Linked DNA regions of Homo sapiens. The protein of the gene in region 3 interacts with the protein of the main gene of each other region in a biochemical or structural test. Each region holds a gene or a part of one and is shown on either strand. Other genes may lie near its edges. The genes, in order: ELK3, SMAD4 and NFIA.

Region 1 (3,105 bases), on a different chromosome or scaffold from region 3:
AGTGATACTGAATGTGTTGTTTAGGGACTGCATTAATCTGCTTTCTCCCTGCATCCCCTCCCCTCCCCTCACACCAGTCTCCCTATATCAAACCCTGAGTGGAGACTGCTTTGAATCACCCATGAAAACCAGAGCCAGGTCAGCCTGGTATTGAGACCAAGAGAAATAATAACCTTTATCACCAAGCCTAGCAGTTCACATTCCCCTGAATCAACAAAATGGCTAAAAGAATAAATGGTAGATTTGATTTTCCCCTACCTTCTCACTTCCTCCTCCTCCTCAATACAGAGCAGTTGATAGAACTTAAATAAGATCAGGGGTCTGCTTTTCAATCCATTCCATTCTCCCACAAGTCAGCCTCAATAATTACATTTATTTCTTAAAATATGTGTATGTAAAGCACTTTTTTTTTGGATGTGCTGTCTTTAAGGGTAGGTGACAAGACTCATTTTCCAACTTGTATCCATATGGAAAAGTGGTTTGGGTCACCCCAAGCAAATGGAAGTAAGCCAATCCAGTTACCTCTAAACACCTTTTATCACAAAGTTTTTATTGAACAAAAATAATATGACAGTAAAAATGATACATAAAGTGAAGATTTGCAGTCATAGAAAAGATGTGTACAAAGAGACCAACATTCAGGTTATATAGTTCTATAAAACTTTTCCCATAGCAGTTTAACACTGATTAAGCAGACATAAAAGGGAAAAGAAAGTCATTAATGTTCTTTGAAACCTATTTTCTGAGTAAAATACCTCTGCTAACACACACATGCACACACACACAGAATGAGGCAGAGCTATATGAGTGAGTTATTCTTCAGTTCCTCCAGTTCTCTGTTTGTGTTACAGGAGTATTTTCATCCATCAAAAAATTGTAGTATTTTTGCATTTCTAATAAATGGATCTAGAGCATACATTAATCCCAGTTTCCAAAGGAAAAGAAAGAATCAGATCTATAGTCATTTAAATATTTCCAATCAGCATTTACGTAAACAAGTATACTAAAAATAGTAGTTTTGGTTGAGATTTTTGCACATTAACTTCCTTTAGTTTGTAAGAATCATGCATTTTGGATGTGTTCTCTTATCTGACAACACAGTTTTAAATGCTGTCTTTATCTGTTTTGTTTGTTTTACTAATAACACGTAGTTTTGAACCAGTAATTACTTAACAGCTAGGCATGGGGGAGACAGAATTGGACTGAGCACCAATCATTGTTCTACCTTCAGTGAGCTGTGCAGCCATAGGCAACTCCCAGCTTCTGCTGTGCACCTGTCTTGAGCTGGAAACAGGTGGCGGGAAGCATTCTCAAAGGCCCCTTCTAGCACTAACTTTGTATGTTCAGTAAATATCAGTTCCCTGGACCAGCTCCTTTTATTCTGGTACAGAATTATTCTTAGCCTATGGGGTGGGGGTGGGGGGACAGTAGTGTCTATTATTTGTGAATTTTGGAACCAGTGTCATTACTTTACAGTCAAGGAGGCATGTTAGAGTGTTTGGATTTTTATCCCTTGATAAGGGCCCACATCCCCACATACAGAGATGCTCAATTCCAATTGAAAAACCTCAGAATTTCTAAGTGTCAAAGCAATAGTCTAGATTTTTTTCTGAAAATTCAAGAAATGTGTTTTCTCAAATCTCTTTTTTTATCCTTTCTCATAATCCTGCCACTTAATGCCCAGTTTGGATCAGTTATTTAGTCACATTTCAAGTTAGTTTTTATCATCACTTATAGTTAAGGATTGTAATTAATCTTGAATTTAAAGCTTGGTGCTTTTCAGTTTTCTTGTATTAGAACTTTCCTTCTTCATGTACAGGTGTGGTACCTTTGGACTGGTGCCTGCTGATTTTCTGATGGAACAGAAAATATGTCTGTATTATCACTGCTCCAAATTACATTACACAACAGAATTTACTGGAGTGTTCCAAGTTATCATCAGTTCAGTTCCACGATGATGAGGTTCCTGTAGAATTTTTCATCTGTCAGATTTCCTTCATTCTCCCCTAACTTTAGTAATACATAAAGCAGTGTATCCTCTCTCAGTTTCCACAAGCAAGGCCTTTAGTACCTCCACTCTCTATTTGTATTACAGCAAGTTTTTGATCCATCAAAAATTGTGAACACCTACCTATACTGATGAAGATACCTAGTGTTAAAAATGGTTTCTTTGTTGTTTGGGTTCATCACCACTCTGTGAGCTTCTTCTAAAGCATTAGATTTTTTAAATGTTAATTATAGTTCCAGGGGAACCCCAACTTACTTATACTGACACAGTAAATATATCAGATGGTCGGGATTCCCTATGGAAAACTGAGAAAACCAGGGCTAATTTTTTGAAATAAGAATATGCTAACCTAGGAGATATTCTTGGGCCTGGAATAGCATGAACTTGATGTAGCTTTTCCATCTCAGATTTTTGTCTGGGAGGCATCTAAAAGATAAGATACTGTAAACAGCTAAGGAGGCTAGCCTTTCAAGGTCCATTCTTTTGAAAATGTACTTTAGAACATTTTCTTTTATCAATGTTTATTGTCTAAATATGGCTTAGTTTATTATAAAAACATTACTTGGACATTTACTGAATTTCAGTTCAAAAGAGGTTCTAAGGCAATTCTTATACAATTGAAAGTAAAACAAAACGTGATATATGCTTTCATATTGCCCACTGGTGAAAAATAATGAAATTCTACTAGAGAGCTGTTTGATACTAATTTTCATCTTTCAAACATTTCCTCTTAATACTAAAAAATATATAAATCATTCATTTACATTAAATGCGAAGGAAGGCACAACTGGTTATAGTCTATATAAGCACACAGTTTAGCATACTCAGAACTAAAGAGAAAAAAGCTTCACATCCTTATTAGTTATACTGAAAACCATTAAGAAAAGTTCTTCACTGTCAACAGTGTTCAACACTTAAGAGCTAAAAGGATATAAAAACAAAAACATTAAAATTCACTTAATGCCAAACAGATTTTCATATATACTTGAATATATCAAAAACAGTTTTTAAAATGCTAACATAAATCTAGACTATCCATGTTATGAAAAGTGCAAACCAAATTAACAAGAGTTTCACAATGTCCTTCTCACGACACA
Region 2 (3,755 bases), on a different chromosome or scaffold from region 3:
GCTTATTTCTTCACAAACATATTTCAAATGCCAGCAAAACACCACTGTACGTCTGGCCTATCATATTAACTTCTTCAGAGGTATGTCAGTTCATCCTGGCCACTCCATCCACCTCTCTCTCTGGACCTTTCTGATTAGGACCCCAAAAATCCAGGCTCAAGAAAATGTTGAAAACTGAAAAATTAATCACTATCAGCACTGATACTAGTAATGGCAGAATGCTAGGGTTTGACAGAGAAAAGCAGAGCAGAAAATTATTTTAAATAGGATGTGATAGTGAAGATGAGGAAGTTAAAAAGATCTAGCTCTGCTGTCCAATCAATATACCATTTACTGGTTAAAAACAAACAAAAAAACTATCAGTCTACTTTCAAATTTTTTCAAGAGCTTTTATAAACCAAGAATCATTTCTTTTCAAGAACACCATCATATTCCCAGATGTACAAGAAATTAATTGCCCTCTCTGTATGTAATATACCAAGAGAATCAAGCTTCTCTTGGCTTGTATTCTATTCAAAAACCATCCTATGATATTGCTTACTGTCCTACATTTTTAAGGCTTTTTTTTTAAAGTGGAAATTTGGTTTCTTAAAGAGCATTAATTAACTCGACTGTTAATCCTATTTGGAAAGCACTAAAGTTATAATTATTTATAACTGGCATCACCTCATTCTTTTCTAAATGGGAGTATAATCAGATGGAAGAGAGTAACATGTCACCATTGCTCAAAGTATCAAAGAAAAGGAATATTTTTCTTTTCTTTACATATCACATTTCCTTAAAGCTAAGAATTACAAAACCAAAAGCTAAAGAGAATATTTCAATACTCCCCAAATTATTTATCTGTAAAAATGACATTTTAGCAACCTCCCTTCCTACTCATCCCCCAGATTCTGCAAGTTATCTTTAAAGGTTAATTATGGTTTTGTTCATATTTTTAACAATTCTACAGGCAATACTCTTAGCTAACTTACAAAAATTGTCATTAACTACACAGGATAAATTATTTTAATTTACAGGTATTTAAAAGGAAATTCTTAAAATATTCAGGTGTCAAAAGAACATAAATTGTAAAGTGACTCACTGTAGTTATCCATACTGAATACTTCCCTTATACAATTCTAAGTATGTAAAATAAAGTTAAACAATACGACTAAATCAGCTCACGTAAAATAGCCTTTCAAATCTTCTATTTTAGTTCAACTTCTTTTCATCAATATACTTTTTGAGACCTAAGGGAACCCTCTTTTTTTTTTTTTTTTTTTTTTTTGGAGATGGAGTCTCGCTGTGTCGCCCAGGCTGGAGTGCAGTGACTCGCTCTCTGCTCACTGCAAGCTCCGCCTCCCGGGTTCACGCCATTTCTCCTGCCTCAGCCCCCGGAGCAGCTGGGACTACAGGCGCATGCCACCACATAAGGGAACATTTTGACACAAGTTCTAAAACTTACAGTATTTACGGTATTCGATTATTAAAATCTACCCAATAAATACCAGGATAAAATTAGCTGCATTTCATTTCTATCACTTTTTCTAATCTTTGAATAGGATTCAACCTCAGGAAACAACACAGTCAAAATGAAGTCACTTTAGTAAGCATTGACAAAGGCACAGAAATTCAATCTCCAGATAATATAAACAGAAGTAGGTAGCTGTGCTCTAGCACTAATCTACGTTCAAGTGGCTATAATGTACCTTCTTTTATTTTCTATCACTACCCACTGTTTGTCAACCATATTCCTAATTTGGTAAATAAAAAGTAGACAGATAATAGAAGCACCAAGTGATTAAGGAACTGGGTTCTCAAGTGCTTAACCTATATGACCCATTTAGAATATGCTGCCTATAGTGAGACTGTCATCTCTTAGATAGCAAACCAAAAACATGTTGCTTTGAAGTGGTGTAATGAATTAAAGGGGAAATTCTGGTATACTTCACTTGAAAACTCACAATTACAGAAATCAGTCCCCCATTTATTCCAAAGATCAAAATTTCTATGTTGAATCTAATCTGATAGTAAAGCAAATACAATAATGGTACTTTCGGTAGCAACTAACACAGTATTAGCCCAGAGCTGTCAAAAATCTATTCTGATGTGGGTTTACATAAATTCCTTTAGCAACTGCATGCAACTAACACCATACACATGCCAAGACAATGCTCTATGATTAATTGAAAAAAAAAAAATGAAAAAAAAGCTACTTCATTTGCCAAGCAGCAAACTATCAAACCTTTGGTTACTGTGAAAATAAGTAACAGAACCAGGTCATATGATCATGCCCCCAAAAACCTGAACCTAGCAGCCCCTCTCCCTCCTATGACATGGCAGAAAAGAAGGATCTTTCTGAAACACTTTTTTTTTTTAATTACACATATATTTTAAAAAGAGATATAGAAGTTAGCTTATATCAAAATTGACTTAATTAATGTCTATCTTGAGCAATATATAACAAATTTGTCAAGATCCCTTTGCACAGTGAGAAAATCAGACAACTACTATAAGGTAATATTGTCCCAGAAAAACCAAAATAAGAACACCGCATTAAAAGAAAGGTTGCAATTCCATTAACACAGACCTTCATAAACATCTTGGATCAAAACTACTTGTTAATTATTTAAATATTTCTCCAAAATATATCTGGGAGCTTAAGAGGCTACTTACTGCTACATGTAATAGTAAAGTATAAATCAGATCATTAATTTAAATCAATATTATAATCAAAGCCATTACTTAAATTCCAAGTGATTGTGCATACCTGTTTAATACCTGTTTACCTATGAAAGATACTACAGTTACTTTTAATGTTTACTTACTTGGAGTTTCCCCCCAAGTGACTACACATAAATAAGCAATGATTAGGAAAACTCAACTTGCTGACTACATCTGATTCTAGAACTCACTTGTGGAAGCCACAGGAATGTTGGGAAAGTTGGCAGTGCTGGTAGCATTAGACTCAGATGGGGCTAACAGAGCTGGGGTGCTGTATGTCTCTGTCGATGCACGATTACTTGGTGGATGCTGGATGGTTTGAATTGAATGTCCTTCAGTGGACAACGATGGCTGTCCCTCAAAGTCATGCACATATTCATCCTTCACCATCATACTTGATGGAGCTATATAGAAAATTAAACATATTTTAAATTTTTATAAGCTTCTATTCCCAGAAAAAAAAATCTTATTAGCAAGTAATATAATAACACCTAAAATCAATTACAGTGTAAATTACTAACCTTAATTCAGAATTTTTTCATATTATTTTAAAAGCATACTACTTTACCAGCAAAAGTCATTTATTCAGCGGTAACAGCATGAGATATATTTTATCAATCAATCTGACTCTCAAATTTGAAGCTAGTCTATGTTTCAACAGCCTCCAGCAACAATCCTAAAAAGGTACTCCTCAGTTTCTTGATAAACCTAGAAGAATAATCACCTAAATACATAAGGCAGGCAAAAACCGAATGGCTGGAAAATGTGTCCAGCTGAGAAAAACAATTATTCGGTCTAAATAGAGACTGAGTATTTAACTATATCTTTTTGTTAATTTCACACTGTGGAGATATGAGTGGGATCTGATAGATATCCAATCCCAGGATCTAGAATTATTGTTAAGCAACATATTCTTTAAAAATGAAGTGTACTGAATGTAATGTCCCCTATAGGTTTAGAACCAAACGGAAAAATTATAAATGAAAAGTCAAACTGAAATTTCCCTCTAGAAACCCAACCCAAATAAGAGTATTTGATTAATATATGGT
Region 3 (3,755 bases):
GAAGTGGTTGGAAAAGTTTCATTCCATACTTCCACAAGTTACTAAAATAGGAACTTTGGAAGTTTGTTAGGAAAAAAAAAAAAAACTTTTACAGTAACTAAAAGTAACTGCTATCCATTATTAATGCTAGGCCTAAATCCCAAACAGACCATTTCAACATAAAAGATGCGTTTAAGAGTCTTCTGAGATCAAATACCCGGTATTATTACTGTTAGATATTGCAATAAGAAGGGATGTCATGTGGGAAATAAATCCAGAATCTAGAGAGGAGAGCGAAAACTACTGATACTTTTTAGCCTTCCAGAAACTATTCCGGTTAAACCGTTATCTCCTACTAAATGAAGGCAAGAAGTGGTAGGTTTTTTAAGGGAGAGGTGAATAAACATTTTATGTGAAGCATATAACTTCATGTAGGTGATTAATGGTCAGATCCTAATGTACCAAAGCAGTATGAAATCTCACGCTTAAAAAAAAAATAGCGCAAAACCACTTTGACTTCAAGCCTTTTAGTCAAGGAAAACAAATAACATATTCAAAGGGGACCGGATTTGAAGTCTCGAAGTAGCAATATTTTGCCTGGGGGTGGGTAGACAAGGGAGGAATGGACAGGGGGGCACGGAAAGGAGAGGCGGTGGGGCGCAAGAGCCCCATGCTCTGAGTTGAGTCGGAGGGGAAAAGTTGCCCCCGTCCTGCGCGCGGAGCGGCCGGAGTCGCGCGGTGGCGGTGGTGGTGGTGGCGGCGGCGGCGGCGGGGGGAGCCGTGTCCGGCCCGGGCCGCCGCTCCGGCTCCCGGCTAGGAGCCCAACTCTGCCCGGCGCTACCCGGCCCGCGGCCCGCGGCCTCCGGCGTTCGGCGCCCTGCACAACGTGGGCTCGTCTCGGCCCCGAAACTTTCACTCCGGGAGAGCCAACGGGCCACCGGCGCGCGGCGAGGACGCAGGCTCCACCCGGCCGGCGCGGGGGAACGCGCGTCCACGTAGCCCCGCTCAGCCGAGGGCTAGCCGCAGCCTGCCCGCGTCCGAGGGGCGCTGTCCGGGCCGGGGCCGGGACGGGAGCCCGCGTCCTTTCCGCGGCCGGACCCCGAAGGCTGACAAACAATAAACAAAAGTAAGAGTTCGGGAAGACGGCGGGGGGCTGCGGCAGCGCAGGCTGCGGGGAGCGGGCCGTTGGGCGCAGGCACCCGAGGTCTCCCCGCACCCGAGGACTGCAGCCGGCCCGAGCGTGCGGGGTGAGCGGTGGGCTCCGTCGGCGGCCCCCTCCCCGGGCGCTGCGGCACTACGGAATCCCTGCTCCCGGCAGCAGAAACGCTGAGCCAGATTTCTGCGTGTCATGGACTGCAACCCCGCCGAAACACGTGCGGGGTGTCCGAAAACACTGCTGTTCCGCAGTCCGTCGCCCCGATATTAATTAACGCATTAATAAGAGGGCGCCATTAGCCATGTGCCCACACAAATGGCCGTGCAAGAGGAATGCACCCGCATGGAAACAAAGTTACTTTCTTTAAGCGGGATCCCCCCCCCCACCCGCGGGCACACGCGCGCACACACACAGAAACACGCGCAGACACAGACACACACCGAGACGCACGCCCTGGGCCCGGCCGGAGCGACGGCCCCGGTGCCCCCCACCCAGCCCCAGCCCTGCCCCCGGCGCCCCGGCCCCCAAGCCCTCCGCATCCACGCCGCGGCTTACCTGGGTGAGACAGAGCGGAGAATACATAACTGCCGGGCGCTGGGGTATGCGTGTGCGTCTGGGTGTGCGGTTTGGAGGTGTGCGTGAGTGTGGGTGAGAGAGGAGAAAGAGGGAGAGAGGAAGAGAGAGAGAGAGAGAGAGAGAGAAGGGGGGAGAAAAAAAAATCAAGCCTGCTTCTTGCGTTCACATTTCCAAGTCGGCTCAACTGCAGCCAGCCAGCCAGCGCTATTGCCGCTCCATGAGCTGAACTTTAACCCCGCCTAGAGTTTCCCTACACTCCACTATACATGCCTACTGTACGCGGGTGTTAAAGGCATAGCGCACCCTTTCCCGCTCCCGCGCCGGCCCGGCCGGGTGCCCGCGAGCTGCCCGCGCGCCCGCCTCCGCCTCCGCTCTGCACCGCACCGCACAGCCGCCGCCCGCTCGCGCCGCCGCCGCGGGGGGGAGGGGGTGTGGGGGAGGGGGCGGCTGCGGCGCCGCGCGGCCAGCCGGGTCCCGAGCCTCCGCGGCCGCTCGCGCTCGCAGGCTGGCTCGCTCGCTCCCCGGCTCTCTCCGTGGCTCGCTCCTTGCTCGCTCGCTTGCTCGCTCTCCCGCTCGCTCCCCGGCCCCCCCGCCCCCTCCCCCGATCAGCGCATTACTGGGTAACGCAGTGAGGAGCAGTTACAGTCTGTACTCCCGGGCAGCTATAGGCTGCCACAGGATGTGCTTAAGCAAACAAAACTACTTTTCCTCGTCCCCATCCCCCCACCCCCGCTGCAGACCTCCGCGGACCTCGGTGGAGGACTTGGGCAACTTTGCCAGGTTGCCCCGCACCCCCCGGGCCACCGCGTGGGCACGTAGAGAACCGAGGAGGAGGCCGGGCGGCACATTTGCATGTATGCAAATTTCTTTGAAAAATCAGACCTCCTAGGTAACTTTTTTTCCCCCACTGAAATGCGGTAAGGCTCAAAGCATTGTAATCTCTCCAGCGAAGCTTTCTGTGGGAATAGATTCGTCGGCAGAGGTAATTATGCACACAATCCTGCAAACTTTGTGCAGCTTCGGTCCTGTGGCATTCAGAAGCGGGGGTGGTGAGGAATCAGTGCCCACAGAAGATTCACCGGATTTGGGGGGCGGGGGTCTGGAGAAAAGAAGGCGGAGATTAATGAGCGTTATCCCTCCCAGGACTGTGAAACTAGTGGGTTTGAACACAGACGCCATAGAAAAAGTTCTATCACGTTCAGAAACAACAGTGGTTTAGCTGTGACATCTTTTACTTTTTAGGAGGAAAAAAATATGTGAAAGGGATGTCCCCTTAGGGAAGGGAGATATTCTGATCCACAAACGCGTGCCCAGAACTGGACATAGGCTATCATTACCGTCCCAGTTTCTGGGACACCTCTGGAAGGGTGCCTTTTAAGAATCCCTTTTTTCCCTCCCCCAGGTAATAGTTCTTAAAATGGAAAAGAGCTTCCTGCAATTATTTTAGGTTTGCTAAAGTATTGTTTTGGCAGAAAAGAGGGGGGTGGTTTTTAGGGTTTGGCAAGTTGCCAGTAAGCCTGCTTTTCCAGTTTTTTTTTTTTAACCTCATATTTTCTCTCTAGGCTCTCCTCTCTCGGAGGGGGGAAAGCCTACCTGCCTCTTCTAAGCCCCCATCCCTTATTTTACTTCTCTTCCTCATGATGGTTTGCAAAATGCTGCATTTGACAACCCTTCTCAAAATTCCAAAAGGAAAGAGGTAGGTATCATGTTGAAAGACACTGGCACACAGGGGAATCTGCCCTTCGGTGGAGGTGACATAACCAGAGAGTCTCTAAAGAGGGGACATTCCTGTAGGAAAGTGAGGGTAAGTGATGTGTTAACAAGTGAGGGTGAGTGATGTGTTAAGGCCACTCTCATTCAGACTTCTTTTCAAAGCAAGGGGCAGGAAATACTGTACTGGAGAAAGAGCAAAAGAGAACCTCTGAAATAATTCTGCATCTGTCTAAAGTTATTTTATGCTTGTACTTTAGTTACTTTATTGCCAAAATAATTCCCGAATGCTCAAGAACCATTCTCTCTCCCACCCTCCCTCCTGAACATCCTT

What was found.
Region 1: the proteins of NFIA (region 3) and ELK3 form a complex in vitro, tested with the Homo sapiens proteins (one study listed by BioGRID).
Region 2: the proteins of NFIA (region 3) and SMAD4 form a complex in vitro, tested with the Homo sapiens proteins (one study listed by BioGRID).

What each region holds. Positions count from the first base shown.
Region 1 is NC_000012.12:96,267,249-96,270,353, reverse strand, and holds the end of ELK3 (ETS domain-containing protein Elk-3), read right to left. Parts: 3' UTR 530-3,105; downstream 1-529. UniProt on the Homo sapiens protein: May be a negative regulator of transcription, but can activate transcription when coexpressed with Ras, Src or Mos. Forms a ternary complex with the serum response factor and the ETS and SRF motifs of the Fos serum response element.
Region 2 is NC_000018.10:51,054,136-51,057,890, reverse strand, and holds part of SMAD4 (mothers against decapentaplegic homolog 4), read right to left. Parts: intron 3,111-3,755; coding exon 2,898-3,110; intron 1-2,897. UniProt on the Homo sapiens protein: In muscle physiology, plays a central role in the balance between atrophy and hypertrophy. When recruited by MSTN, promotes atrophy response via phosphorylated SMAD2/4.
Region 3 is NC_000001.11:61,080,754-61,084,508, reverse strand, and holds the start of NFIA (nuclear factor 1 A-type), read right to left. Parts: upstream 1,949-3,755; 5' UTR 1,749-1,948; coding exon of another isoform or gene 1,718-1,748; coding exon 1,691-1,717; intron 1-1,690.